3 separate regions of the Homo sapiens genome follow, and regions 2 and 3 are each linked to region 1. Evidence: fine-mapped expression QTL. A gene starts in region 1. Each other region holds a variant in brackets. All regions are shown on one strand. Distances are from middle to middle. Region 1 holds the start of LIMS2 (LIM zinc finger domain containing 2). Region 2 overlaps MYO7B (myosin VIIB). Region 3 holds the start of GPR17 (G protein-coupled receptor 17).

What was found. PIP is the estimated chance that this variant, and not a neighbour inherited with it, causes the effect.
Region 2: its variant is fine-mapped to the expression of LIMS2 in whole blood (INTERVAL, PIP above 0.99).
Region 3: its variant is fine-mapped to the expression of LIMS2 in esophagus muscle (GTEx, PIP 0.96).

The regions. Positions count from the first base shown.
Region 1 is chr2:127,671,023-127,681,036 of GRCh38, reverse strand. It overlaps LIMS2 (LIM zinc finger domain containing 2), which reads left to right and starts at 5,507. Exons shown (of 10, transcript NM_001161403.3): 1 at 5,507-6,023. The coding sequence starts at 6,013.
Region 2 is chr2:127,632,506-127,642,519 of GRCh38, reverse strand. MYO7B (myosin VIIB) reads right to left here. Exons shown (of 48, transcript NM_001393586.1): 40 at 9,157-9,262; 41 at 8,231-8,344; 42 at 7,837-7,924; 43 at 7,294-7,400; 44 at 6,613-6,798; 45 at 6,196-6,312; 46 at 5,892-5,975; 47 at 5,607-5,726; 48 at 4,794-5,204. The coding sequence ends at 5,103. It overlaps LIMS2 (LIM zinc finger domain containing 2), which reads left to right. Exons shown (of 10, transcript NM_001161403.3): 6 at 321-471; 7 at 1,532-1,624; 8 at 2,202-2,250; 9 at 2,375-2,450; 10 at 3,092-4,094. The coding sequence ends at 3,239. Among named protein-coding and RNA genes, the nearest start is that of MYO7B-AS1, 6.7 kb to the right of the region's middle. RefSeq lists enhancers at 2,881-3,826, 3,827-4,773, 4,774-5,720, 5,721-6,667, 8,964-9,193 and silencers at 9,464-9,513, 9,614-9,703. The variant TGTTG/G (reference allele first, on the strand shown) is at 4,054.
Region 3 is chr2:127,645,449-127,655,462 of GRCh38, reverse strand. It overlaps LIMS2 (LIM zinc finger domain containing 2), which reads left to right. Exons shown (of 10, transcript NM_001161403.3): 3 at 567-633; 4 at 919-1,039. GPR17 (G protein-coupled receptor 17) reads right to left here and starts at 9,310. Exons shown (of 2, transcript NM_001161417.2): 1 at 9,219-9,310; 2 at 2,824-4,747. The coding sequence starts at 4,727. The coding sequence ends at 3,708. RefSeq lists enhancers at 2,997-3,076, 3,596-4,321, 4,322-5,049, 5,455-5,749, 5,776-6,503 and 1 more. The variant C/T (reference allele first, on the strand shown) is at 5,863.

The DNA of each region.
Region 1 (10,014 bases):
TCCAGTGGGAAGGTCACAATGGGAAAAAAGAAGCAAAGTGACCCTCAGTATGTGGAAGAGATACTCTCAGAGGCAGGGAGAGGCAGGTGCCCCGCAGGTGAGGAGCTCTGCGCCCAGGAGGCTTCTTGCTGGATACTCGACGGCATGATGTGTTGAGGTGTTAAAATGTGGCATTCCTGGATATGTGGTGGGGGCTGCCCTCGGGTAGCCAAACCCATGAGATGAATGGAGTCTGTCCCAGAGCAAAGGCGAGAGTGAGATGGCCTTTTCCTCCCGAACTCCAAGGCCAGGTCATCTTTGGAAAATTGTGAAGCTCGATGGTCCACCTCTACTCCTGAGTAAATCAGACTTTCAAGAAGGGCACTGTGTTCCCCTCAGACTGAAAAGAATCCCTGGGTCTCTTGTGTGTTCTGCAAATGTTGAGAGAATTGTGGATCGACATTCCGCCAGCTTCTCTCACTGAGCTGCCGTGTGGCACAGGGAGAAGTAAGGCCATTTTGTGCTGGTCAGAGGGTGTGTCTAATGACAGTTCTGAGGGCAGGCTCATATTTTTATTTTTATTTATTTATTATGATTATTTTTAAAAGACAGGAGATTGCTCTGCTGCCCAGGCTAGAGTGCAGTGACACAATCATAGCTCACTGTAACCTCGAAATCCTGGGCTCAAGCGATCCTCCCACCTCAGCCTCATGAAGAGCTAGGCCCACAGGCATGCACCATCGTGCCCAGCTGGTTTTATGCTCCTAGTTTTAAAAAGAGACATTTACTTTTCAATGTGTTGTGAAACCTGTGGGTGCCAGGGGCGGTGTCCTGCTCACTATTCTTCCTTTGGCCCAGGGAGCCGCCCGGGAGGGCTCCGGCTGTGCAGGTGCTTCCCCGCTCCCCCCCGGGGGGTTCTCACAGCCACTTCCCAAGTTAACTTTGGTCTCGCAGGAGGCGGCTGAAGGCTTTGAACTTTGTGTTGATATTCGGCAGGTCTCTGTGTTTTGCCAGTTCCCAGTGCCCTGAAAGGGACAGGCCTTAACCAGATTTGGGGCACAGGCCTTGTAGAGTGGCCGTCTGGGTGGCCTCACATCACACGGGGCCATTCTTGGAACAGGCAGGATGAACAGCCTACCTGTTGGGAAGGCATGCTAGCTCCTGCCCCAGGACCTGGGCTGTGGCAGGAGACCCTGAGGCCTCCTGAGAGCTGCAAGGCCTTCTCCATTCCCTGTGGTCACATGGGGACAGGGCTGTGGCTCTGGATATTGGCGGAGGCTCATTGAGGCACTTTGAGACCCCGGGTTCTCCTCAGCCTCCTACTGCTGATTAGCCACGCTGACCAAGCCCAGCCCCTCTCTTGGCCCTGGGTCCCAGCTCCCACGAGCGTTGGGCCCTGGGCTGTCTCAGGTAGCTGTCCCCTGGAGTAGGGAAGGGAGAAGGTGGGGGGTGGAGAAACTCGGGTACCTGCCCAGCAAAGGGGGTGCCCACCTGCCCTGAACCCCAGAGGGCAGAAGGCTCGTGCCCAGGGAGATGCTGCACCTCCTTCACCTTCTAGGACAGCTGTCATGTCACTCTGTGGCCCAGCCTCAGCCTCAGAGCCCCACTGTCCCCCAGCGAAGACTAAGTGTGTGATTCAAGCCACTCTCTGAATGTCCCTCAGTGATGCCATCCCATAAGACCTGGGAATGGACACTGCATTCTCACCTTCCCTCCCCTTCCCCTCCCCACTTCCAACTGCCGTCTCTTCTCTGCCCCCCCTTTCAGAGCATTCTCCCCCCAGGGGCACTGTGTGCAGCACTCTGGGGAGCACCATCTACACAGACCCCAGGGAGGGGTGCTCCTGGGGGAGGCATTGCAGGGGCCCTGCCTGCCCCTCTGCAGCTGGACTCAGGCCCCTCACTCCAAGGGACCGGCTCTTGACCCAAACCCAGATGCTTCCCTGGCCTCTGCACGCAGCAGTGTGCACACGGGGCAGTGGCGCACCTCCTCCCTGGAGCTCTTTCCCTCCGGGCTTCTGTGGCACCTCACACTCTCCTGCTCTCCCCCTCACTTTCTGCCAGTCCCACCTCTTACCCTTGGAGGGCTCCTGACTGGTACAGACACCCCAGGGTCTCCATGGAGCCCTAGAGTTGAAATTCCATTTGTACCAAGCCTTCTGCATCTACGCTGGAGAATGGACCTCTCTTCCCTGCTCCAGGTTCACAGTGCCCCGCCCACCATCTCCCCTGGGATGCCTGGGGAGGGCCCAATGCAACGTCACCCCTCGCTAACCTGCCCAGACTGTCCCACTGCCACCAATATCTAGGAAAGCAAGGCCACCTGCAAGTCCTCTTGACTCCCACGGCTGTACATTCACACCTGCCACACACACACCTGCCCCACAACCACCACACCTGTGCTGACCACGCCCACGCCGGCCACACACACACATCCAGATTCCCAGCAAATCCTGTTGGTTGCAAAATAGATCCTGTGTTTGATGCCTTCTCAATGTCCCTACTGTCGCACGGCCCAAGGCACCAGTCCCTCCTGGACGCTCACCATAGCCTCTAATCAGACTGTCCCTGAGACCACTCTGTCCCTCACACAGTGGCCACACAGCAGCTAGGGACACTTCCCCCTTTTGCTATGAAAAAGTTCAAGCACTCATCAAAGTTGAAAACCCAGATACCCACCACCTAGATTCTCCCATTAATATCGTCGTAGACTCACGTTACCACCTCTCTGTCCTTCCCTTTACCCATCTCCCCATCTTGAGTTCATTTTTTAGAGGCAGAGTCATGCTATGTTGCCCAAGCTGGTCTTGAATTCCTGGCCTCAAGTGATCCTCCCTCCTCAGCCTCCCCGTAGCTAAGGACTAGCTGGGACTACGGGGATCCACCACATCGGCTCATCTTGATTTAAACAATGTATTTCAAAGTAAGTTGCAGACATCAGTACCTTTCTACCTAAACACTTCAGCATTGTATGTCATTAACTGGAGTTCAGTATCGTTTACGGTATTTTTCTTTTGAGGTAAAATGTACATATAATGAAATGTGCAAATCCTGGCCATATATTCCATGAGTTTTAACAAAGGCATATACACTTGTGTGACCCAAACTCCTACTAAAACATTGCCTGTTACCCCAGAAACTCCCTCACATTCCTTCCTAGTCAACCCCTGTCCTGCCACCTCAGGGCAGTCCGGGGTGTAATAGACCAGCCTGAGGCAGCCACCGTTCTGATTTTTTCTACCACAGACAAATGTTGCCTATTCTAGAACTTGATATAGATGGAAAAGGTGCTCTTTTTTCATTCAGTCAGTATTTCTGAGATTCACCCCTGCTGATGCTAGAGTGTTGTGTCTGTCTTTGCTTAGAACTCTCCATCTAAGGGTGGAATCCTACTTCTGCTGTGGCCCTGCTGCTCTGCCCTGGGCCCTCTCCTTTATTTCCCGTGCCCCTCCACCTGCCACCTCCCCTTTTTCCAGACCCACTGGTCTTCTTTCTGACCTTGCGTACCCCAAGCTCATGTCACCTCAGGGCTGTTGCACTTGCTGTTCTGCCGGAATGCTTTTCCTGCAGATGGCTGAGGGCTGGCTCTTTCCCTTATTCTGGTTTAGCTTGAATGTCACCTGCTCAGAAACTTTCCCTCACCCTTCACTCTAAAGCAGCCACCACCATTGTCCTTTTCTTTGCAGCACTTACCCTTGTCTAAAATCTAGTTTGCGTATTTATTTATTTGTTTATTGCCCATCCTCCACCTCCTGCTAAACTCCATGAGAGCCTGGTCCATGGCTTCTTTCTCCCCCTAGTACTTCCAGTGCCCATGCGGTATAAATACTCTTGAAGGAACAAGTGGATAAGTGTGTGAATGTGTGATTGCCAGCTCTTTCCTGCAACTCTGCCCTCTTGGCTGAACTGTGGGAGGCTGGCCCTGGCTCCTTGAAGCCTCTGCATCTCCAGCAGGGCTAAGCCATGCCCACAACCCCTACCAGCTGTTACTGAGCTTGCCCTGGCCCAGGGATGAGGCACACTGGGAGCTGCATAGGGTCCTGGTTTGGCCACATACAGATCCGTGTGTGCTCAGCTATCATATGCAGGGAGGCTTTTGGGCTAAAAGGCAGGAATGTGGTCTCCTCTGTGGAGAGCATGGGCCTCTGGTGTAATGCTTTCAACTTTTCATCCTCTTTGGTTCCCACAAGACCCTGATATTCAATTAACCGTCCAGCAGTGGATTTCTGGTGCACGGCCCCAGCATGCCTACACCTCTGTGTCAGTAATGGTGGAAAGCCTTTCTCCCTGTATGAGCAGGTGAGCCAAGAAATTATCCATACTTAAGCTTAATCAACCATCAAATTACAGTTAAGCCGAATCAGCTGAGACACGCTCGCAACAAGAAGTAATAACTCGAGACAGTCGGATCACCTGAGGCCAGGAGTTTGCAACCAGCCTGACCAACATGGTGAAACCCATCTCTATCAAAAATACAAAATTAGCTGGGTGTGGTGGCATATGCTTGTAATCCCAGCTACTTGGGAGGCTGAGGCAGGAGAATCGCTTGAACCTGGGAGGCGGAGGTTGCAGTGAGCGGAGATTGCACCATTGCACTCCAGCCTGGGCAATAAGAGCGAAACTCCGTCTCAAAAAAAAAAAAAAAAAAAAAGTAACAACTGCAAAGGCACTCCACAATACCAGCCACTTAGGAACAGGTGTCTTTTCCCAGCTTATTTCTGCAGGTGGAACTGCAGGATACTATCAACTCATCTTTCTGAACGGCACCAGTTTATTTGTGGGTTGCTAATTCACACCGTCATTTCTAGATCATCTTTCTCTGCTGCCAAGACCGGAGTAGCACCACATTTACACATCAGGCCGCCCAGCTCCCAAACCTCAGTGTGACATCTGGGCTGCTTCCAAAGATGAGCTGCACGCCACTGTCCAGCTGGAAATATCTGCCTTTAGGCAGGGCGGGGGTTTTTTGTTTTGTTTGTTTGAAAATTTCCTCCGAAGAGATTCCCTAAATAGTTTATATTACCCCTCCATCTTAACGCCTCTAATGGTAGCTTCTCAGCGCTTCATTATACAGAGGCGTGCCTGGTTCCCCTGGAAACCTGGGAGCTGGGCATTTGGTTTTGTCGTTTAAGAAATATCTTTCGCCAAGTTAGGGCGATGGCCCGCAACGGGGGATGAAATCGGAATTTCCCGGGGAAAGCAGCTTTGCGACTGAAGAGGGACGCCTCTCGGCTTTAGCCTCCCTGGGGGCGGGACTGCGTGGACTCGGCGGTCCCGGGTGCCTCGGGAGGGAGTCAGTGCCCAGATCCGCGGTGGGAACTCCGGGCTAGGAAAGCCCGGGAGGGAGGTGGTCTCAGCATCGCCCCCACGCCTACCATCTCCTGCACGCGTTTGCGGTTGGGGCGGCCCAGGGACTGCAGAGGGGGCGCCGGGCGGGGCGTCCCGGCGGGGCTGTGGGGGTGGGGGTGCTTGTTCGCGTTTATTATAACTTTACTCCCTTTAAAAGGAAAGCTATGCCCGGAATCCAGGAGGTGGCGAGCAGAGCCCGGGTTGGGAAGGACTTGACCCGCGCCCGCCGCTGGCCGCGCTCCGTGTCCCTGGAGCTGGGGCTGTGCGGGAGCGGGGCCCACCCTCTACCTTTACCCCTACTTTTACCCCCACTCCCACCCCCGCCTCACTCTCACCCCTCCAACCCCACCGTCAGCCCCACCTTTAACCCCCACCCCTCCAACCCTACCCGCCGCCACCCCCACCTGCCACCCCCACCCCCACCTATACTCCCGCAACCTCCCACCGTCACCTCCCCAACACCCCCACCACCCTCAGCCTTGACCTCCCCATCCCACCCCGCCCCGCGGGCCCCACCCTGCCACCCCCGCCCACCCCTCTCGCGGGCGGAGCGGCTCTTGGCCTTTTTTGGGCGTCTCCCTGCTCCGCGGCCCGGGCTGGCGGGCGGGCGCTCGGCTGGCGGCTGCAGCAGCAGAGGGAGACCCGCGGCAACCCCGGCAACCCAGGGCTCGGCGTCGCTGCCACCATGACGGGAAGGTAACGGCCCCCACCCACGCCCCCGGGCCGGGGAGGCGGGACTGCGGGACCCCTGGCCGAGGCGCAGCTCGCCCTCGTACAGCCCCGCGGCGCCACGATCCCCGCTCCGCCCTGGCGCGTCGGATTCTCGCAGCTGCCGGGGCGGCAGCGCCCGTCGGGGCAGGGGTCCCCCAGCCCCCGCGCCTCTTCCTCTGGGCGAGCGCCTGCAGCGGAAGGTGGAGCTCCTGCCCACCCGCCCGCTGCAAGATGGGACAGCCGTCTGCTCACAACCGACGCCCAGGGCTGCGGGAGGGGGTCTTGTCCAAGGTCAGACACCAACCACGGGCAAAAGGTTCAAAGGTTGCGTGCCTCCCCCAACTTCCCCGAGCCCGCGCTGTGCGATCCCCGATCCCGGTGAGTGTCATCTCTGGAGCCTTCCGTTTCCTCCTCTGTAAACCTGGGGTGGTAAAAATGTTAAAAATGTTGAAGGGTATGTTGGAACTTGGCCAGAGCTGCGCCCAAGCACCAGCTGTGCAGGGGTTGGTTGGGGACAGGGCGCTCCCCTGGGCCTGGCCCACCCTCTGCTCTCAGGCCCCTCGTTGCCATTTCACAGATGAGGTCACCAGAGGCCACAGAGGCTGAGCCACTCAGGAGGCCAGTCACAGGTCCACCAGTGTCCGGCCAGTGTTTGTCCCTGCAGCCCTTTCTGGAACCTAGCTGGGTACAAGTGCATGACTCAGGACTGGGTGGGAGGGGGCTGTCCCTGAGGCCCTGGTCTCCCCCAGCCAAGTCCTGGCAGGGGGATGCTGTTCTTCAGGATCCCATGACCTGGGGCTCTTGGGGAGCCCCAGCCCGGAGAGTGACCTGTGGCTTTGCTGGGGAAAGGGGCTTGGAGGGTACAGGGCAGTGTCCAGGATTGCAGTCTCAAATCCGAGGCCCACAGGGGAGCTGCCTCTGTGATCGCCATTAAGGCTGTGGCCTGGGGTCTCAGGGCAGCCCAGGAACCAAAAATAGCCTGTAACTTGTCACTTTGTAAGTCCTGCCCTCCAGACACACTTCCCTTTCTTCTCCCCAAGCCTCTCTTCCCAGTTAGCTCCCCTGACTTGGAGTCACCTCTAAGCCTTGGCCCAGGCCCCTCTGCAGTGAGATGGAGGGACTCATCCCCCGGAGAGTGGCATCTGCAGGCCCACTGGCTGCCTGTGGTCACCCCCTAGGGTTCTAGCGGGGCTGCCTCCCATTTTCCTCAGAGCATCCCTGCCAGCTGGCTGGTTCTCACTCTCCTGTTTTCTAGGAAAAGAAAGTGGGGAGAGACAGGAACAGGGTCCGGAGCAGCCCCAGCAGCAGCATTGAGGTGGAGGTGGGTGAGAGGCGGTTCCTTCAGGCACAGGAGGGATGTCGAGGAGAACAGAGCCGTGAAGGGTGCGGGGCTGGAATGGGAGGCCCCGAGGTGCCACTGCTCCCTGGCAAGGGTCCTCTTGCCCCTGAGTCCCTTGGGCCTTTCCCTGGAGACGGAGGCCGTCAGGTGAGCCCGGCCGGAACCGCTGGGAAGGCAGGTGGTGGCGAGCAGGGGTCAGCCTTCCCTTGCTGCTGTGGGCTCCAAGGGCCTGAGAAACTCTTACCCTCAAATGACACAGGGATGACAGTCAGCCTTTGGCAGGCACTGTGTAGGGCGTTCCTCGTCCAGGCAATACTACTCGTCTTAGAGAATAAGGAGAAACCTGGAAACATAAAAGATAACAGAAACATAAAGAGAAGGAAACTGCCACAGTTCCACTCCCAAGAGCCTCCCTTTATGCAGTTCGGTGGCTCCCCGCAGTCCTTTCTCCTGGAGTTTGTTTGACGCAGCTGTGAGCGATCTGAGTGTAATGCACCCGCTCCTTCAAAGGTGACCCTGCTGCCCGCAGTGCTGGTGCCCCACTGGCTTCCCTGCCTTCCATACACAGGGATTGGGCCGGGCCAGTCTGTGAGGAACAGACATCCAACCCGGCCTTCGGAGTGGGCGAGAGTTTTCCTGTCCCAGAAGCAGTGGAGTTTCATTTCCACCGTTTCATGCTGGGTGCCCTTCCCCACGTCCACTGTTCCCATGTGATCCCGGGCAGCTCCTCGTGCCTGGATCCTGGTTCTCTCGGGATCCCCCATGCTGCCCAGAGCCAGGCTGCTTTTGGGAAACACCCTCTCTGCTCGCATACCTTCAGGGCTTCTCCCTGCCAGCTCTCCCTAGGACCTCACCAGGCAAGAGCAGAGGGAGGGCTGTGGGGAGCCACCAAAGTGACCTGGAGTGGCATGTGTGGCCATGCTGTCTGCAGATGAACCCATGGGTGCTGTGTGGAGAAAGGGCTGCTGGGAAGGAGATGGGGAAGGAGACAGAAGGCAGCCACTAGGGAGGCCTCTCCTGGGTGGCTGAGCGGGTGGAGGAGAGGAGGCTGACTCAGGGTTCTGGGAGGTGGAGTGGACAGGACCCAACTGACTGGCTGTGAGGTGGGCCACAGAGGGTGGGGCTCGGGAGGATGCCCCTCCTGTGATGACAGGTGGGGGTGGATGGCATGCTTGGTGTGGTTGTGGAGTGCTTGAAGAGCTGTGGCAAGTCTGAGGGGGAGCCGTGGGAGGCACCTGGGCATGGAGGGGCTGAAGCCCAGGAGTAGCCAGCTGGGCAGGGAGTGAAGGCAGCCCAGAGCATGGGGTGGCACGCCGTGGGAAGAGAGGGGGCTCGGCCTCAGCAGCAACTCAGGGACTTTGCAACTTACAACCACAAGATCTTTGACTATCACAGCTGAAGGGACCTCTGGCATCACCATTGTTCTACAGGGAGGATATTAAGGCCACCTACCTAGGGACCCAGCTGTCCCTGGCATTCCTGGAAATGGAGCCTGGGATGTTGACACCCACGGCCACGTGAGCTCAGTGGCTTGGCTGCATAAAGTGGAGTCCCACCCATGGTGTGACCGTCATGTGTGTCACATGTGAGGCTGTCGTATGCCTGATTGTGTGCTGAGCCCATGCTTAGTACAGCGCAGAGCAGGCTGCTAGATCCCTGCCCTCATATCCACCAATCTTGCCCCTCCTCCGGGTGAGGAGTGTGCCCGGTGGTCCCCTAGGCAGAAGGTGTCGGCCAAGGGGCAGCTGACTGCAGCTAGAGCCCTCAGCACAGCACACGAGGCTGCAGTGGCGTCAGGGGCTTAAGCAAACTGTAAAGTGGGTAACAAGTGATGTGGCTTGTGATGTGGCACCACTGAGCCCTGAGCCCCAGACTGGGCCAGGTGGCACTGCCATGGCCCCTCACCTCCTTCCTTTTTCTTCTACTTCTGGTGCTGACTGGCCCCTTCTAGCCGGCCAGTGGCATAATAGGGATGGAGGGACTGATCTGCAGGGTGTCCAGTCCCGTGGTGTGATACCCCCACCTGGGCTCATTTCAAGCCACCAACATGGCATTAACGCTTTACGGAATTCCTGAATAGTTAACAGTCAGCACTTGTGAACTGGCAAGGGACAGCCCAGGGAGCCACTGGGGAGAGGAGCCCGGGCTTTCTATCCACAGCGGGTTATCCTTCTTCTGTCTGTCCCTATCTGTGCTGTGCCGCATGCAGGCTCTTTTTTTTTTTTTTGAGATGGAGTCTCGCTCTGTCACCCAAGCTGGAGTGCAGTGGCGTGATCTCAGCTCACTGCAACCTCTGCCTCCCAGGTTCAAGCAATTCTCTTGCCTCAGCCTCCCAAGTAGCTGGGACTACAGGTGCATACCACCACAACCGGCTAATTTTTTTTGTATTTTTATTGGAGATGGGGTTTTACCGTGTTGGCCATGGTGGTCTTGATCTTCTGACCTCTTGATCCACCCACCTTGGCCTCCCAAAGTGCTGTGATTACAGGCGTGAACAACCGTGCCCAGCCTGCATGCAGGCTTAACCATCCCTTAGGTCTTCACTTCCAGGTGGGAAAGGGGCCAAGGGAGGCACTGTCACTGTCTTGCTTGTTCTGTTGAGGTGTAGCGTGTACATTTCTGAAGGTGAATATTTAC
Region 2 (10,014 bases), 39 kb after region 1:
CCCTCCAGTCCTCTCCGTGCCTATCCAGACACCCCCTCTGGTTTGGAGGAGGAGGGGGGCCCAAGAACAGACCTGCTTCTCAGAGGCCTGGGTGCAGAACACAGCCCACTCTTCTGGGCTGTGCAGGAAGTCTGTGCTCCAGGGCCTGTCTGGGGCACAGGAAGTCTTCAAAGTGCCCAGAGATCAGAAGGCGCTGCCGCCTCGGCTCTGCAGGGACAGAATGGGCCCCTCGGGGAGCCGTGCCCTGGGGTGGAGGCGCTGCTGGCATGACCCTGCAGAAGGGCAGGGGTGGCACCTGGGGGCTGCACGCTGTCTTCCAGGAAGGAGCTGACAGCCGAGGCCCGCGAGCTGAAGGGTGAGCTCTACTGCCTGCCCTGCCATGACAAGATGGGCGTCCCCATCTGCGGGGCCTGCCGCCGGCCCATCGAGGGCCGAGTGGTCAACGCGCTGGGCAAGCAGTGGCACGTGGAGGTGAGCCAGGCTGGTGGACACGTGGCCTCAGGTTGGGGGGTGCCCCAGCTCAGGGTCATGGTAAGAGCCCTAAAGCTCCTCCACACTCCCAGCCCAGGGCGGGTGGCTGGCTCCCAACGAGGCCCTTCCTCAGGGGTACTGCCCCTCCCTGTGCTCAGCCAGGGACCCCAGCCTGCCCACGGGAGCCAGGAGACCCGAGTGCACACACACGGTTGGGTAGCTGTGCCCACCTCTCCTCTTCCCCCTGCTGGCATTCTAAGAGACTCCAAGGTCAGGAGAAAACCTTGGGGGCAGTCTGTCCAGAGTGCCTGGGGGTTGTGGATGACAGAACCCGCTGCATGGACAGCCCTGTGCAGACACGGAGCTGAAGAGTTCCTCAGGTGTGAGCACTGGGTCACCTGGAGTGCCCCCACCGGGTGGTGGGCTCTCATGTTCTCATGGGTACACTGGGAACAGTGAGCCCACCACCTCCCCTGATGACCTGGCCAGCGCTGTGTCCGGAAGCTGTGCCTTGGGTGGCGGCTTGGGTGGGAGGCCATGCGGTCCTGCCCTGATGCAGGCCCCAGCCCCCAGCCCTCATCCTCACATGCAGATCCCTGGGGGAATGCAAGGTGCTGCTCAGTGATCCCAGGCTTGCAGGGGGTGCCTGCAGGAGGCCCCACGTGGACAGGCAGGGCCGCCTCTGCCTATGAGGGCCCACCATGCCGCAGCACCAGGCTGGCACCTGACTCCTGGGGCTGAGGCTGCCGAGGGGGAGGCCAGACTGGGAGGGGATGGTGACTCACAAGGTTACCATCAGTGCCTTAGAGGAGGGGTAGGGTCTGCTGACCCCAGGGCATTCACAGAGGTGTCAGTCCCCTCTGCCCAGTGTGAATCCTGAAAGGCCTGCACCTGCCCAGACTCTGCTTTCTGTCCCCTTCTGTCACTGCTGCCTCCTGGGGCCACTGTGGTCCCCTGGAGTCACTGGCTCCTGGGGTCACTGTTGTCCCCGGGTCACCACTGTCCCTCGGGGTCACCGCTCTAGCCCTGATGCCACCCGGCCCGCCCTTTGTCCTTGCAGCACTTTGTCTGTGCCAAGTGTGAGAAGCCATTCCTGGGGCACCGGCACTATGAGAAGAAGGGCCTGGCCTACTGCGAGACTCACTACAACCAGGTGAGCCCGGTGCAGAACCTTCAGGGATGCGGGTCTGGAGGGGTGGCCAGGAGAGCTGCCGTGAGCAAGGGAGGCTGTGGGCACCCCCTCAGGAGCTCTGCCAGGTGCTGAGCCCAGGCCTGCACCCTCAGCCCTGGCTCCTGGCCTGGGGTCTCGAGACCTGGGCAGCTCTCTTCAGTCTCAGTGTCTTCCTTTGAAGAATGTTCTGGGGCTGGTGTGAGGTCCCGGGCACATGGGGCTGACAGTGCCAGCAACCCCCTCCCTCCCTTGCTCTGGTACAGAAGGCAGGGGGCGCTGGTGGGATGCAGTCACCACCTGGGCCCACCTCCTTGCAGGACAGCAGTGGCCAGAGCAGAGGGGCCTTCTGGGGAGCAACGCCCCAGCCTGTTGTCCTTCCCGGAAGGGTGGTTCTCATGGGTTGCCGTGCCCTCAACCCAGCCTTGCAGCTGGGCCCTGGGAGGCAGGGCCTGGGAGATGCCTGAGAGGGGCCGTGTTGGAGGGCCAGGCTGGCTGCATGATGGCCCTGGGCTGGGGTGTGACTGCCTGCAGCTACTCTGACAGCCTGCTCGGCCCACAGCTCTTCGGGGACGTCTGCTACAACTGCAGCCATGTGATTGAAGGCGATGGTGAGGCCCTGTGTTCCCTCCCCCACCCCACCTGCTCTCCTGGGGCCTGGGTGCTGCAGCTGTGAGCCCAGCCGGGCCTGCGGCAGCCTAGCCAGGCCTGCTGAGTCCCACGCTTCCCTCACAGTGGTGTCGGCCCTCAACAAGGCCTGGTGTGTGAGCTGCTTCTCCTGCTCCACCTGCAACAGCAAGCTCACCCTGAAGTGAGTCCCTGTGATCGTGGGATGGGGCTCAGGGTGGAGGGGGCTCCTGCAGGTCCTTCCTCTCAGCAGCCCTCCTGCACACCAGCTGAGTCTGGCCTGGGGATATGGTGGGGACAAGGGGCAGCCCGGCCTTATACCACCCAGGGAGATGGGGGCAGGTTCAGGGGGTCTAGGGGATCCAGGGACCCCAGGGACCCCAGGCACAGTGAGAGGAGGAGGAACACTCATGCCTCCAACACACCTGCCAGAACCCTGGGCTCTGGGGAGGGAAGGGCATTCCAGCTCAGGGAACAGCATATGCAAAAGCAGCAGTGTCAGCTGCTCATCCAGGAAGCCTCGAGGGGTGTGGGATGGCTGGAGCTGGGAGAGGAGAGATGGCGTCCAGGTTTCCAAGGGCTGTGGGGAGGCATAGAGGGTTCTGGGGTTTCAGAACCTGAGAGAAGCCTCTGGGAGGCAAGGGAAGCCTCAAGGCCCTTCTCATCCCTATGCTCTCTGGCCATCTCACCCTAGGGCCTGGCCTGCTGGCTAGGAGAGGCTGGTGTGGGGAGGCTGGGGGCTGAGGGAAGCCCACTCCACAGTCACCTGTCTGGGGTTAAAGGGGTGGGCGTGGGGCTCTGCTGACAGCTCAGCTTCCTCCTCAGGAACAAGTTTGTGGAGTTCGACATGAAGCCCGTGTGTAAGAGGTGCTACGAGAAGTTCCCGCTGGAGCTGAAGAAGCGGCTGAAGAAGCTGTCGGAGCTGACCTCCCGCAAGGCCCAGCCCAAGGCCACAGACCTCAACTCTGCCTGAAGGCCCTCTTGCGCAGCTGCCTCTCGGCCCCTCCGCCTTCTCCCCTCCTGCTGTCCATGCTTGGCCCCCTCGTCCCCATCCACCTGTGCCCTCCGCATCTTACCCTCCCTTTCTCTTTCCTCATTGCCTTCTCCCTTCCTGTTCCCTCATCTCTGCCTTCCCCATGTCTCTCCTCTCCTTGGCCGTGGCTTCTGTCTGTGAGGAGGCAGGAGCTGGGGAGTGGGAGCCTATGACCCCACGTCTGACAGCCATGTCCACCTGTGCCCACAGCTTCCGCCCACAGACCTCCAGGGACAGGAGCAAATTGCACCACAGCTCCCCGCCTGGCCTGGCCCTCCCCAGGCGGCTCAGTGGCTCATGCTGTCCTGTGAGAGCCCCTGCCCCAGAGCGGCCCCACTAAGCGCATGTGGCTCCTGGGCTACCCACAGCCAGGGCAGCCTGCTGGAGCCACAGGGCCAGGGCCATGCAGATGGAGGCCTCTGGGAGCCACCTCCAATCCCTCACCACTCACTCAACCAGTGGCACAGTGTCCTTGTGCCCACACTGAGCCAGCAAGTCCTGCTGTCCACACCCACAAGCTACCTGGAGGGACAGGACCCACCTCCATCCTTCGGAAGGCCTTCCTGGAATCCCACCTTGGCCTCCGCCCTCGGTTCCGCCCCGCCCCTCTCCCCCCGACCTTGGGGCTTGTGTCGAGCCCTTGGGTGGGGCCAGGAGGAGGTGATGGCGTCAGAGGAGGTGTGGTCAGAGGTGACTTGTTCCCACCTCCAGGGAGGACGCTTCGTCTTCGGCCAGCGCAGACCTGGTGTTTGTT[TGTTG/G]GGCTCACGCTTGCACAATGAAGGCTTGTTCACACAACCACAGCAGCCTGCGTGGTTTGTGGCGGGGGTCGGGGGTGGAGGGGATGGCAGCAGCTCTGGACACGCTGCTGCTGGGGCAGTTGAACAGAGGGACAGACATAGACAGGCACGAGTTCAGGGGGCCCTAGCCTCTATCCCAGGCCAGGCTGCCATAAGCAGTTGAAGACTAGCCCTGCCAGGTCCTCACAAGCCTGGGTGGCCAGGTCCACATAAGCTGGCCCAGTGGGCAGAGGAGGAGGTGGGCAGGGACAGGGCATGCCAGCGAGGTGGGGGAATCCAGGCCTCCAAGGTGCTATGTCCAGCTCTGCCCACTGTCTGTCTGGGCATAAGCTGGCCATAGCATGAAGCCAGCAGCCAGAGAGCCGCACCTCCACCCTGGCCTCCTGGGGGTAGCGCAGGCGTATCAATGCCCCGGGTGGGGAGAAGGACAGAAGGTGTGAGGAGGGGCCTGGGAGGAGAACTCTCCCATGAGTGCCCCTCCCCAGTCTGAGAAACAGGAAGGAAGGAAGGGAGGGGGAGGAAGGAAGCAGAAAGGGAGGGATGAAGTCATTTCTGGAGAATGCAGCTGCCCTCCGGGTTCCCTGGGGGAGTCAGTCACACGGCATTTTGGTTTTTCTGCAGCTCTCTGCGGGCCAGAGCCTCCCAGGCCCCCTGTCCACCTTGTGCCACACCCTGCTCCCTCAGACAGACACACTTCTCCTGCTCCAGGAGTTTTTATTGAACATTCTGGTGGGGTGGGGTGGGGTTGGGAGGTGTCCTGTCAGTCAGTCATCCACCAATAGCCTGGGGGTCCGAGACTCCCGACCCCATTCTGGGCCCGTCTTTTGGCCTCCCTGGGCAGCGCCCAGGACAGAGGGGGCCGCCTGCGGGGCTGAGTGGGCTTTGTATGGGGGGCAGCATGGAAGGCTGCCCGCCAAGGACAGGCCCTGGGTTGAGAGGGCCTGGGAAGGTGCCGCCAGGCTAGAGGTCGGGAAGGGCGCCTGAGCAGACACGCCAGCATCCGCTGCTAGGTGCTGGCCAGGGCTGGGGCCTTGGAGCCCCGCTGCTTGTTCATGGCACTCAGGAGCTGCTGCACATATGAGGTCAGCAGGTCATCCATCTTATAGCCCTGGACAGGGGACGGGGGGGTCAGAGGCTGTGGGTGCAGAGGGCAGGTGGGGGTCCTGGACTCAGGGACCACCTTCTCTTCCTCAGCAACCAGCAGTGCAGGGCATGGAGAAAGGGAAGGCGGGCTCCTGCCATTGGGGCCGTCATTTCTGCTTGCCCTGCTGGAGCTGGGTCTCCCTCCCTCCTTGGAATGGGCCAAGGGCGCAGGGGGTCCCGCCTGGCCTTGCCACCTTGGCTGCTGGTCCTGGGGATGCACCCAGGCCCTCTCCAGATCTGCTGGCCCCGCCTGGGCCCTGTGACTGAGCCCTCTTAGTGAGCCACTTGAAAGGGGTGAGGGTGGGGAACCCAGTCTCCAGCAGCTCTGTCCTATGCATCTTGGATGGGAGAAAGAACCTGAGCTCACCAGGGAGGTCTCGCACAGCAGGCGGCTGCCACGGCCCAGGCTCCCCAGCGCCATGTGGAAGTAGGTGCTGCCGCTGCTCCAGCTGGAGATCTTGGTGAAGGGATAGGTGGTGAGCAGGTCCTGGGGGCAGAGAGGGTGGGTGGGCCGGACGCCTCCAGAGCACGGGCTCTGTGTGTGTTAGGGGACAGGAGAGAGGCAGGACACACCGCAGAGATGACTGCAGCCCCACCTGCACAGGTCCCTGGACCTGGTGGCCCCCAGCCCCTCCGGAGGCCCAGCAGCTACCTTGGTCTTGGGGTGGATGAGCAGAACCCCATGTCGGTTGATGGCGATGAGGATGACGTCCGGGTAGGAAGGCTCCGAGGTTTGCTGGGAGGGAGGGACACGGCGGTCATAGTCCAGCCCGGGAGGCCAGGCTGCACCTCCCAGGAGCTCATCTAGGCCACACGCACATACACACATACACCCACGCCCTCCAGCCTCACGGCCAGCCCCACCCAAGATGTGTGCTGGTTGACGCTGGGCCTGCTGGGGCTGGGCTGAGCGGAGCCTGCTTGGGTAGGAGGCCCTGGCGTGGGGCAAGGTTTACCTTCACCTCGAAGAAGGCGGATCCGAAGGTGGGCCACCGGCAGATCCACTTCAGGAAGGCCACCTTGGCCTCCTCCACTGTCTTGTCCTTATGCTTGTCATAGGCTAGAAGGATGCTCTGGGGGACAGGAGGGCCAGTAAGGACTTGGGTGCCCAGAGGCCCTCCAAAGCCCTGGTGGGGGCAGCACCTGCCTACCCCAGGGCTAGTACGGTGGGGAGGGGAGGGGAGGAATGCAGCATGGGACAGTCTCGGTGCTGTGGATGGCATAGGAAGGCGTGGTGTGTGCAGAGCCAGCCCACCCTCCACACCACCCATGTGCACCCATGTGATCTTGGAGCCCAGGCAGGGCATGGCACTGGTGCAGGGGCCCAGGGAGGAGCAGCAGCACAAGAACCCTTCCCCAGCCCGACCAGGGACCTTTTTCCACTCCTCCGAGGACATCAGGCGTGTGAGGTTCTCAGGCACCAGTTCCCTCAGGATCTTGGGGACACTAGCCAGCTGGGACCGGTCGTTGTTGAACTGGGCCTTGTAGATGAGGCCCGCCAGGTGGATGGCATCCTCCCGCGAACACTTGTGGAATCCGCGCAGGTACTTGGGCAGCTCCTGGGTGATGGACACACTGGGCATGCTGGGTCTCCAGCTGCGGCCCACCCGCCCCCAACCTCTTTCCCGCTCAGATGGTGGGGAACTGGGGCTTAGCCCACTCCATCCAGGACGGACTGAGCAGGGTAGAGAGTTTCAGGCCAGGGGAATGACCCTGAGTCAGGGCAGGGCCCCCTGACATCTGCGTGGAGGTGATGGCCTGCTCCACCCATGTGGTTGGCCCTGCAGGCCACGGCCACTGCTCCATGGGTCACAGGACCCTCTGTCCCACCCTCTCCAAGTCATGCTGCAGGTGCCAGTGCAGTCACTGTCCCCAAACATTGCTGCCCTCTGCTCCTGGTTCCAGAGCCCTCAGGGGCTTGGTCTGCCTACCACATGGGCTGGTACCCAGGGCTGAGGCTGGCCCTGCCCTGGCCTGCTGGCTTCTACAGCCTCAGAACAGGTGTGGGAAGATGGGGGTGGCCCCAGTGCCCACCAGGGCAGCCTGCCCGGTACCTGGTGGTAATGGAGTATGGTGTCTGCATTCACATCCTTCCCTGGAGATATGTTGAGCCACAATTTCCGCATGAAGTACACCTGGTAGGGGAGCGTCACGGGGGCCCCTGGGCGAGGGCCAGCAGTGGGCACCAAGCCTGTCCCAGCAGGTACACCAGCCCTGACCCCCTGCCACCCCCCACACTGCGCCTGCCACCTCCCTGCCTCGAAAGCCCCCACGCTTCTTCCTCCCCAGTCCCCACATTTTCCTTCAATATTAGTGTAGAGGCTGCCTTCTCCAGGAACATTCCTGGACTCGCACTCCCAGCCCATGAGGGTCATGCCCCTCAGCCCTGGGGCATCCTTCATCACTCCAAGGTGCAGCCACCTGTTTCTGCCTGAGCTGGCCCTCACCGCCGGGCCCCAGGGCCTGGTTGTTCCCACAACCCAGGGACACACGGGAACGAATGGATGGATGAATGGGCATGGGCCGCACAGAGGCCGCCAGTGCCCCCTCGACCCACCCAGCCACGCCCTCCCCCAGCTCCACAGAGGCCTCCTCACCTTCTTTCTGGGGCTTGTTCTTCTTCACCCAGTCAGACACCTCCCTCAAGGAATCAAAGAAGAAGTCTCCCTCCTTCTGGCTGATGACCTGGGGAAGGGGAAGGTACAGGGAAGTTGGGTGGCTTCCGGGGACTGTCCTCCTGAGAACCTGCTGGGTTCTGGTCCAGTGGCCGCCTACGGCCTGGGTGCTGCGCTGGAGTCGGCTGTGCGTGGGCTATTGGCGTGTGGAGCTGGCTCTGCTCCAGGACCCCACCTACCTCTGTCCCAGCAGCCCTGGCCGTGCAGCCTGGTCCAGCATGGGTGCCCCTGGTAGGCTGAGGCCCCCACAGGCAGCACCTAGGGCCTCGCTCACTGCCCGTCCGCCCACCGTCTGCCCAGCCCCAGCCCGGCCCACCTTGTCTGAAATCTTGATGAAGAGGCTGCAGCCCTCCCAGGAGGCCAGCTGCAGCCTGGTGGCAATGCTGTCACACACATCCCGCACCCGTGTGTTGGCAACCACCTCCAGCATCTGGACAGAGAGGCAGCTGGTGAGGCCCGGGGCCTGGCTAGGGGCCAGTACAGCCCAGGATGAGCCTTCCTAGCCTGGCACTTTTGCTCCTTCATGAAACTTGGGTTGGATGTGGTCTGCCCTGAGCAGGGCAAGCCTCCCTTCCAGAACCCTGGCCAGAGGTTCATGTTGTTTAGTCCCAGCATTCGCTGTCCTGGGGCCCTGCAGGCCTGGCCTTTTGACTCGCCTTGAGAGCCCAGCAGCCAGACTGTGGGAACTTCCTGTTACCGGGACCCGAATATCAAGGCCAAAAAGACCATTGTGCTGTTGGAGAGGGCGCGAGGCGACACTGCCCACTTTGGCCTCTCAGCCCGCTTGTCTTTGCTGCCCCTGATCAAGGCCTCTGTGTCACGGTGGGGTCCTGGTGGTCTCCTACCTGCCCCCTGGCCCCTTTGTTCCCCCAGCAGCCATGGCAGGCTCTGTGCACAAGGCACACACAGTGGGAATACCTGCTCTCCTGCACCCCAGATGGTCAGAAGCCCCTAGGGGCCCCCAAGTCCTGGGACTCACCCTTGCTGCCCACCCCTCTGTCCTCTCCTGTGTCCTGGGCCTGGATCCCCCAACTCATACCTTGGGACTGGCCTGACTTCCAAAGCACCCAAGGGCAGGTGGGGCCTGCATCCCATGGGGAGAGGGCGGGAGACTGGTTAGGATGGGACAGCCCTAGAAAAGGCTCTCTGGGGTTACCAAGGAGCAGGCTGGGCCAGGAAGGAGGATGCCCCATGGCCTCTGGAGGCCTGAGACTTGCCGTGCAGACCAGAGCAGGGCCTCACCTCACTGGTGTCATTGGGGAAGTAGATCTTGTGGCAGATGCGGGAGACGTTCTGCTCTGCGGCCTCCACCTCCACCTGGTGCGGGGGCTGCTTCCGGGGCCCCGTCCTGAGGGGGACAGCGTGTGCTGCAGGTGCCACCCCCACCCTCATCCTCACCCATGCCCCAGCCCCGATGTGGGCCCTAAACCATGTGCCAGAAACAAAAGAAAACCCCAGTGACCATCACTGGGGTGGTTCCAGCCCCTCGCATGTCCTGGGGGCTGCCCCTGGCTCCACGCGGCCTCAGAGGTAGTGATGGTGCAGCTGTGCCTGAAAGCCTGGGGCACACACGGGGAAGGGCCAGGCCAGGGGCTCCCGGGAAGGCGCCGGCAGGAAAGGCTGGCAGTATTCTTATTCTCGCACAACAGGGGCATCGGGCAGGGGCCAGGGACTCTGGCAGGGCCTCTATGGGGCGCCCACCTCTCTCTGTGACCACGGCTGCCACTGAAATTATGGCCACTCCTACAGTCAACCTGCCCTCCTCACGGCCACAGGAGGCCAAGCCAGAGGAGGCAGGAGGGGTGGGGGAGAGCAAAGACGGCCAAGGAAGAGCTTCACGGCTGTGGGCGGATGAGGGAGGCCGCATGGACTTGGAAGGATGGGCCTCTGACCTCAGCCTTGAGGGCCTGGGCTGGGGCATCCAGGTTTCTCTCTATCCCTCAGGCAGTGCCTCTGTGCCACTGCTGGGCAGTGGTGGGGCAGGGGAGCTGGTGGCTATGACTGAGCCTTCTCTTGACCCTCCTGGGCCTCACCCTCCACCCTCTTCTCTGGCAGCTCGGGGCCCAATCCTGCCTGCCAAGCTGACACTGGCTTCTGGAG
Region 3 (10,014 bases), 26 kb after region 1:
CCGCTTGTGGCCAGCACAGGGGCCCTCGCTGGCAGCTGCCGCCTGGAGGGTGTGCACACTGGCTCCTGCTGGCCGCAGCCCTGAGCTCTTCCCACTTCCCCGTGCCCAGGCCCTTCCTGCGTTCCCTTCCTTCTGTCTCCTATACCCGGGTCTTCATGGCCTCTGAGAGAGCTGGATACTCCCACAGAGAAGGTATACGAAATAGGACCAAGTGACACTACACTTCAGACTGGATCTCATCCCTCCTGGCTTAAAACCGCCTCGCCCCCAGCCTGTTCTCCGGACCAACAGGGTCCAGATCCTCAGTAGACACCAGTGGCCCTTTGACAGGTGGCCTCACGGACCTCTCCAGCTTCCACGGGGGCACCTCCCTTTGCACCCCACCATCCCAAAAGGGCCAGTGTCCTCTCTGGCCAGGCCTGGGACCCACTGCTCCAGCCTCAGCCCGGCATGCCCCTGCCTCAGTGCCTCATCCCCTGCTGTCAGGTCCTGACCCAACAAGGGCCTGGGCTGCTCATGGGGATGATAGGTGGTTTGCTTGTCCTCTCTCTGCGACCCCTTTGCAGTTTGAAGGCCGGAAGTACTGCGAACACGACTTCCAAATGCTGTTTGCTCCGTGCTGTGGATCCTGCGGTAAGGCCGGTGACAGTACACATCCTGGGCTGCCTGGGAAGTGGGCAGCAGTGGCGGGGGGCAGGGGGCCGAGGGGGTACACAGAACTGGCCCAGCTCTTTCCTAACTCCCCACCTTGCCTCTCTGAGCGGCAGCCGTCAGGCCCCCTACAGGCATCACCATCCCACGAGGGAGCCCATGGGCCAGGCAGAGAGCAGGCGGAGTGCTAGGTGGACAGGGCTTGGGAGGGTCCGAAGAGGGGACAGGCACGTGCTCCCCAGCCAGCAGGGACCTGTCTTCTTCCAGGTGAGTTCATCATTGGCCGCGTCATCAAGGCCATGAACAACAACTGGCACCCGGGCTGCTTCCGCTGCGAGCTGTGTGATGTGGAGCTGGCTGACCTGGGCTTTGTGAAGAATGCCGGCAGGTGAGGTGGCCGTGTTGGGCCAGAGAGGACTGGGCCACAGCCCTTCCTGGCACACCTGCCACCTCTCCTGTGTGCTACCCACTTGCTGAGGGCGCAGAAGGGTCCCGGTGCTGCAGCCTGCACTGATGTAGCTGCCCTCCCTCCAGGTCACCCCGGGGCGGATAGTCCAGCTCCCAGTTTACAGGGCCCCACGCTCAGCGAGCTCCTGGCAGCCTCTCGGGAGCCATGAGAAATCCTCACACTCTGCCACCCCCCTGGCCACCCCATCTACTGACCCCACCTGTCCACCTTCTCCTGCCTGTACCTGTGCAGCTCAGTGTGGCTGGAGGGAGATGCCCACATTTACTCTAAATTGAGGGCCACAAACCTCATGGGTACTCCAGAAGTTCCCACCTTCTGCGAACCCTTGGTCTCTCATCCTCCCTTCCCAAGCACTGTCCCTATAGCAGGTGGCCTTGTCTCCCACCTCCCCTGGCCCTAGCTCTGAGATCCCGTGCAGCCCGGCCTCTGTCTGTGAGCCCTGTTCATCCCCACACTTTCTCCAGGGCTTGCTTCTCCACGCCACTCTCTCGTCCTTTCTGAAGGACTGGGCTGGGGAGCTGGGTTAAAAACACTGCTGGGCCTTCCTCCCCGGCTTCTCCCAGCACACCCGCTGCCCCTCGCGTGTGCTACCCTGGCCTCATCTGCCCAGGGACCCACACCTCCTCTTGACCCCTCAGCAGCCCTCACCACAGCTGCTGAGGTGCAGAAACGCCCCCCTTCTGGCACCCGGGACCCTGAGTTCCTGTGGTTCTGCCCGCCCCCACAGCTGCACCTGCTCACTCCCCTCCTCTGAGTCACCTTTCTCCCTGTCTCTCCATGGGGAGTCGTCTGGGGCTCCGTGCCCGGCCCTCATGGCTGCCCTTGCAGACAGAATCCTAGAGCCCTAAATGGCACATGTGTCTGGAGAATTCCAGGCTCCACTTCAGGCCTCTCTCTCGCTGTCCTCAGCTGCCCACATGTCACCTCCACTTGGTGTCCACCAGGCATCCCAAACGCAATGAGGCACAAGCAGTTTGGGATTCTCCTCCACTGACCACCAAGGCTGCCTCTGCATGCGTCCCCTGTATCAGTGAGAGGCAGCGCCGACCCCCAGAGGCCCCAGCCATGCTTCCCCTGCCACACTCTCTCTGTCCGGGCACTCTGCTCCCTCCCGCAGCTCCTCCGAGATGCTTCCCCGACACTACCGAGCTCTTGTCCGTGTGCTGCCCGTGAGAGAGGCACGTGGCCTGGGGCCTGGCGTCCGGCCCACTGTCCTCGGAGCTGGGCGGTGCCTGGCATTGAGCAGCTTGTCTAAATGAAGGGCTGAGGGGCAGACGGTGCAGTGCAGGGGCCGAGGGACAGCACCAGGAGCTCGTGCTGACCAGCAACGTCGCCGACAGGGTGTGTGGAGCGAGCCCAATCTCCTTCCTGAGCCAAGGTTTGCACAGGGCCACTGCCCCAAGGGCTGGTTGGGGAAATCTGAAAGATGCTGGAAACGTTTTGGAAAGTCAAACATGCTACAAAAGCATGTTGCCGTAAGGACGGTGCAGGGTGGCAGCTAGAGTGAGGAATGAGGGCCCCTACTTGGCCCTCCCAGCCCCACAGTGCAGAACCTCAGAATCTGGGCAGATGTGCTGTGAGCTGCCAGAGCCCCAGCAAGAGAGCCCACGAGGCTGCCTCTGCCACTGTACCACCACTTCACCATTCTTGGGTCAGAGAAGTTCTGGGAAACGCTTCATGTTGACCAAACATAACAACCTGTGTAGTCTTAAAGCTACAGTTATATTTATGGTCCGTACAAACAAATACAAAAAAGGACATGTTAGGGAAATATCTGCACACTAGCAAGGGAAATAGCTCAGGCGGAGAGAGGCCTCTCTGGAGGAAGTGGGTCTGGGTCAGTGGGAGGCAGGTGCACAGCCCAGCCCTGGCCTGAGCTGAGCTCCCGTGACTGCACATGCTTGTCCAGGACTGGGAGGCCTGGGAGCCTGTCAAAGAGCTCTGGGGGTTGCAGGCTTGTGCGTGGGGTTACAGCAGGAGAGATCCAGAATCCAGAGCTGTGCTGAGTCCCTGCAGGCCGTGAGTGCTGACGTCCGCTGGCAACCAGCCTGAAATGTGTGGCCTGTGTCTCTTCAACTCAGGCAGTGTGTGTCTGGCAGAGGCACTACAGAGGGGACTCAGAGTACCTTGCACTGCAAAGGAGTATTGAGACTCCCTCCCCGTCCCCACCAGGACTCCCAGGTCCCTCTTCTGGGTCATTTGCAGCCTGCCTTCAGGGTCTTTCTGCTGAGCCTCGCCGATGAGCGATTCTGTAGCGGGAAGGAGGCTGGGAGCCTAGCGGGAAAGAAAGGCCTCCATTGTTCAGGGGTTGTTCTTCCGGCCTCCTCTCTCCCTGCCACAGATGAAGTCGTTGAGTGTCTAGGAGCCATTGTAGCCATCACAAGCCCCTGCAGAGGGGTGGCCGATGGATCCCCTTTGTCAGTTCTTCCTTTTTATGGGTTGAGACTAGGCGATCTAGAGAAATGGTGGGCATCTGCTGAGATTTCAGGTTGCTTGCTGGGGAGGTGGCTGGGGAAAGGGCAGATGCCTCTTGCTGGGTCTGCTGAGTCCTAAACAGTCTGCGCTCGGCCTGGACGGCGCCCCCCGCTCACAGCTCTGACTTGGCACTCAGCGAGCTCTCGTTGGTTTTCCCTTCGAAGCTGGGGGGCGGGCCCTTGAGCCTTTTGCCACAGAGCAAGTTGCACAGGGCGTGGCGGAACTTCTCAGCCACGAAGAAATACATGATGGGGTCGAGTGCCCCGTTGAGGCTGGTGAGGCAGGAGGTGATGCGGTTTGCCAGGGCCAGGATGCGCTGGGTGGCGCAGGAGGCCCCATGGCTGCGGTAGTGCAGCACGTAGACGGAGCGGTTGACGTGGTAGGGCACGAAGCAGACCAGGAAGATGGCCAGCACTATGGCGATCATGCGCACTGCCTTGGTCTTGAGGCGCTTCTCCACACGCAGGCCCTGCCGCAGGCTGCGGATGATCAGCAGGTAGCAGGTGACCGTGGTGATGAACGGGAAGGTGAAGGCCACTGCCAGGGACACCAGGGCATGGTGGGAGGCCTTCTCCCGGTACAGCTGCAGGCAGACCACCGTGTGGTTGGTCTGCACGGTCTGTGGGCTCACCAGCAGCGGGGCCATGGCCACAGCCACCACCACCCACAGGAAGGCACAGGCCAGGTGTGCGTAGAGGGGCCTGCGGAGCTTGAGGGACTTGACCGGGTGCACAATGGCCAGGAAACGGTCGGCGCTGATGCAGGTGAGGAAGTAGATGCTGGCGTACATGTTGAGGTAGAAGAGGAAGCCGGTGAGACGGCATGCGATTTCCCCAAATGGCCAGTGGTTCCCAGAGAAGTGGTAGACCAGGCGGGTGGGCAGGACCAGCACGCACGACAAGTCGGCCACGGCCAGATGCATCAGGAACACGTTGGCCGGGGTCCCGGACTTGTGGTCTCGGATGAAAAGCCACAGAGCCAGGGTATTGCCAACTAAAGCCAGGATAAAATCCAGAAGGTAGAAGGAGGCGAACAGCATGTTCTCCAGTGGCGTCTCCTGGCCACATTGCTCTGCCGTGGCCAGGGAGAAGTTGGTGATCAGACCTGGGGGAGCCACTTCAAGGCCATTCATGCTTTGGCTGGAGTCAGAGCCTGGAGGGAACAAGCAAACAGTTCACAATGAGCTTGCGATCTAGGCAGCTTCACGCTCTCTGAAGTCCAGAAGTCAGGCCTCCAATGCCTTCAGAACCTCCCACTTTCAAGCTCAGCACCGCCCACGGGGCTGCTGAGGGGACCTCCTTGTCCATTTGGTGTGCGTGAGCGTCAGAGGCATTCTGAACTTCAGCACAAGGCAAACGCAGAACCAGGGCTTGGAATTTCGCCGCTATGCAGCTGCACCCCTGCCACCCAGGAGATCTGAGGCTCCTCAGAGCTGGGAGGACCGGGTCAGTGCCATGGCGGGGAATGGGACGTGAGCCTTGCCTGGGTGAGGCTCTGGGTTTTCTGTTCTGCCTCTGAGGTGTGCTGTCTGAGTGACAGGGGTGGTGAGGGGCGGGGGCAGTGTGTCTCCGGGATTCCAGCTCCTCCTCAGCCCAAGCCTTGGCAGGTGAGTTCTGTTCATCCTGAGTGCCTGGACCCTCCCTGACCCACCTGCCCACAGGTGCAGTGGCCGGGGTGTCACCGCTTTCTGCTTCCCCTGACCATGGCTTGCCCCTGGCACTTAGGAGGGTGCCCCCAGGATGGCAGCAAGGGCTGTACCCTGGGACGTCAGAGGTCTACTCTTTTTACCCACCTGAGAGTTTCAGCATCTCTCTTGGGGGCTTTCTGGATCCAGCCCACCAACTCCGTTTGGACATCCTGACAGGTGGGGAGACCTGTGTTTAGGAGAAGCCTGTGCCTGGGTATCAGGCCAGCTGGGAGTATTTTCTCTCCCAGAGTAGATCCACCACCAGGGGGCAGCATCTCTTCCAGGAGGGGAAGACCCATTTTACCCAGCGTCAGAGACACTGGCCAGCGCTGTTGAGGACGGATCTGCAGCCCCAGAGAGGCCTGGAGGCCTCGTGGCTTGCCCACGTTTGAAGGCCAAGTGCAGAGCCCTGTGACAGTCCTGGGTAACAAGTCATGTCCGTCTGGTGAACCCTGGGTCTGGATAGGGTGCTCCCCACCCTCAGCAGAGAAACCCACTCTTGTTTTGATTTTAGTCAACTCAGAAGATTGAAGAAGGAGAGTGAGGGTCCCAAACACTCTGCCTCCCCAACCCAGGCCTG[C/T]GAGTGGCAGTGTGGGCAGGCGGTGGGGCCAGAGCAGCCCGCAGCCCGGAACCAGGGCAGGACAGCGCACCTGGCCTGCCTTTGAATTGGGGTCACCAGCGGGCTTCGGCCAGGTGGGTGCTGATGATGGCACAGCTTCTGGGGCTCCTCTGGGCACCTGGCTTCCCAGTATCCACCATCCCCACCCTGCACAGCCAGGCTGAAGCAGAGGCTGGAGAGAGGTTTGCATAAGAGAAGCTGGCATCCTGCCTGTGCCCATTGTGGCAGCAGGAGGGGAGGAGGCACGGGCCACAGCCCTGGCAGGGTCCTCATCCTGGGCGAGCCTGGCTCTGCACCGAACAGCCGGGGTCCTGCCTGCAGCAAATTCACTCTGCACATTTCTCCCTGCCCTTCCTTCCTTCCTTCCTTCCTTCCTTCCTTCCTTCCTTCCTTCCTACCTTCCTCTCTCTCTCACTTCGCTTTGCTTGTTTGCTTGCTTTTCTTTATTTTCCTTTTTTCTTTTCTTTTTTCTTTTTTTCTTTTCTTTTTCCTTCCTTCCTTCCTTTCTTCTTTTCTCTTTCTTTCTTTTTCTTTCTTTCCTCCCTCCCTCCCCTTCCTCCCCTCCCCTCCCTCCCCTCCCCTCCCTCCCCTCCCCCCCTCCCCTCCCCTCCCCTCCCTCTCTTTTTTCTTTTTTTCTTTCTCTTTTTCAAGGTCTCCCTCTGTCACCCAGGCTGGAGTGCAGTGGTGCAATCAGCTCACTGCAGCCTCAACCTCCAGGGCTCAAGTGATCCTCCCACCTCAACCTCCTGAATAGCTGGGACTACAGGCGCACACCACCACACCCGGCTAATTTTTGTATTTTTTGGTAGAGACGGTTTTGCCATGTTGCCCAGGCTGGTCTCAAACTCCTGGGCTCAAGTGATCCTCTCTCCTTGGCCTCCCAAAGTGCTCCTTGGCCTCCCAAAGTGCTGGGATTACAGGCATGAGTCACTGCGCCCAGCCCCTCTCCTCTTACTGATTCCACAGGGCTGTCTCAGGATGCTGGTGGCACGGGGCAGAGAGGGCATGGTGACTGTTCATGGACACAGCAGCCCCTCGAGGAGGAGGCTGGAGCCATCCTCATATGGAGGAGAAGCAGGCATGGTGGTGGCCCTAGCCCTAGGGAAGGGTGGGCCGCACCCTTCCTTCAGGAGAGCGAGTGGCCAGCTGCTGTGGCCCTCACATGGAGGGTGAGGGCTGGCCCGAGCACCTGGCCATCAATGTCCTCAAGCAAAGGGGAGGGCAACTACCTAATAATATTACCTTTTAGCTATTTCTCTAGGCAGGTTCCCCTACCTGAAAAGATTGCCCCCGGCTTCAGAGTGTTTCAAGATGCCTGAAGTTCTAACACCAGAGATGGTTTCCTGCTGCTTCCAGGAACAGGGTCTGTTCTTAGTCCAATGTGGAGTTCCTCATGGGGACCCCATTCCCCAGGAATCCAGGTTCCACAGTACTCTGACTTGGTCTGGCTGGTCTCGGCTGGCACTTTCCCTAGGACTGCTAAAACCACGGTGAGGGCGGAGAGCTGAGGGCCGAAGAAGGCGGGGTGAGTGATGCTTGGGAGAGGGAGACAGGCTTGGCTGAAGCCCTGGGGAAGGGCTGAGGGCTGTGAAGGGGGCTGTGGAGGAGAGGTAAAAGGAGGGAGGAACACAGCCCTTGACAGGGCCTGTGAGGCAGGGGAGAACAGGGAGCAGGTACCGGTGGGACGGTGGCAGGGGAGGGGGGCCCATGACTTTGAGGGTGTCGTGTTGCATGTGCTGGGGGTGAGGACCCGGAGACTGGAGGAACAGGGCTCCAGGGCAGACGCATGGGCAAGCAGAGAGGACAGCCCATGGTAGATGGGAGGGGCACACAGGTGTGCTGTTTTCAGGTTGGCAGGAGAGGAGGAAGGTGTGTGCGGGGAGGCCCTGGAGACTGGAAGAGGAGAGGGGGCCCAGTGAGTGAGGGGCCCTTGTTAGAACCTGGGGGTGGGAAGGGGCCAAGGTGGGTGCCCTCCACCCCAGGCTGTCCCTCAGGCCTGTGCTGTGCCCCACAGTGCAGGCATCACCTGGCCCCACGAGAGAGCAGCTCATAGGTACGACTGACCACTCTGCCTGGCATGGTGGGGGCCTGCCTGTGCTGGCTCAAACCAGTTTTAGCCCCATGTTGCAGGTTAGGGAGTCAAGGCTGAGTGTCTGCTAACTTGTCTTAGGTCACTTGACCAGGGGACATTGGCCCTGGAGCTGGAAGTGAGACCGGGGAAACGGTCTCACTCCCTGGAAGACCGCCAGGGTGGGGAGTGTGACTCAGTCTCAGAGTTTGCCATGGAGTTGTCTCCCAGGCTCAGCACCCCCTCCTGGCCCTGGGGCCACTCCCTCATTTTAGGGGCCCATGTATGAAATGAGAATGTGCAGCCCCTTGCTCAAAAAGGAAGAGTTTCAGGACAGTGACGGCAGAGTGTTACTGGGCTCAGGGCCCTGAGTGACGGCAGGGGTGGCATATCTCATGGCACCAGGTGGGCCTGTGGTGCCTCCTGCCTCCAGCCCGGGGGCCTCAGCCTGGGCACTGCCCTCCACTTCCTGCCCGGGCCGAAGGGCGTGCCCCTCGCTCTCTCTGGGACTGAGACTCCATTTTAAACAGCTTTCTGGTTGGTTTCAGGTTTGCTGAGGTTTCTTCTCCCTTTCTGTCCCCCGTTTGAGGAGTTCTGATACTGATTGTTGCAGTTTGGTCTGAGATGGGCCCCGCTTCACTCTCTGTTGCCCTTTAGAAACACAAACTTCAGTCTAGACTCGCTGGTTCCTCACGACTCACTGGTCAGACGGCCACCGAGCCGGTGTCCGTAAGAGGAAAGGGCGTGGCATGGGCCGGGGCCTGGGCAGTGTTGGGTCCCGTGGCTGTGGGTGAGTCGAGCATCTAGGACAGGTCATAGGCCTCTGTGGAGGTGGCAGGTGGGCATGTGTGGCCTCGGGGAGGGCCTGTGGTGGCAGCGCCATGGCCAGGTGGTGGCAGTTTCCTTTGCATTAGCGCCACTCCATCCCTGGCCCGAGCCCTCTCCCAGGCATCTGGCTCCTCTATGGGTCAAGGCTGCCTAATGGTTAGGGGCAGCGGTGCTGTCATTGCAGCCTGGACTGCCGGCAAGCCACTTCCCCTCTGCAAGCCCCCATCAGAGGGACGAAACACCGCTTTGTGGGCTGCTGTGAATTCAGACTGTGGTCAGCCTTCGATGCACAGGTCAGACCATCACCAAAGAGATGGGACGAGACAGGCTGCTGCCTGTCTCCCTGGGCAGGGCTCCCCGCTGAGTGTTTCCTCTGCTTAGCCCTGGGCTCCCAGTCCACCCCACCCAGCCTGCCCCTTACCTCTAGCTGCTGGTCCGGGAGGAAGGGACAGGGGTCTGCGGGGCAGCAGGTGATCTCCGCCCGTGGGTGTCGGTGGTGGCAGGGGGCTCCTTGCCGCTGTGGGTGGAACGCTGGCTATTTAAGGAGAGGAAGGGAGACCACAGCCCCTCTGGCCCTGAAAGGCTGCTTCATTCCTGAGGGGTCCCTTGTTGTGTCGGGCTGCTCCTCTGGCTGCTGCTGCTGCTGCCACCGGAGCGTGAATATTCTAGTGTGTCCCTAGCCCATGCCCCCCGCCCCCAGCTTGGCCACATAGTCTGAGTGTGTGACTGTCTCAGAGACTCAGAGCAGGCGGGGGCTGGGTGGGGGGCTTGGGCTGGAGCTGAGGGACACAACAGGACGTTTCAGAAGGGGATGATTTCCTACTGATGGGGGGCAGGGAGGGGCCGGCTGTCATGGCAACAGGCGGCGCTCCCAGGCCTGCGCCCGCAGACGGCGGAGGGGGCCTGTGAACGGAGGGTGGGAGGCCGAGGAGTCTTGCTCACGGAGTGAGAGGCGACTCTTTGAGGACACTTGCTGTAGGGTCCTTGTGTCCTGCCCTGTATAATGAGGCCCCATTTGGGCACACAGAATAAATCATGGCCTTTATCTGGAGCGAGGAACAGCTGCAGGAGCCTCATAATGGGGCGCTGTCCTGTCCGTGAGGATGCGGCTCAGCTCAGAGGCCGGGTGCTCGCCGGTGCAGCTCCCCTTCTGCACGGAAGCCCATGAATCTGACCGCTGGCCTGGGGCTCCTCCCTGGGGTGGCTCCGGGCTGGGG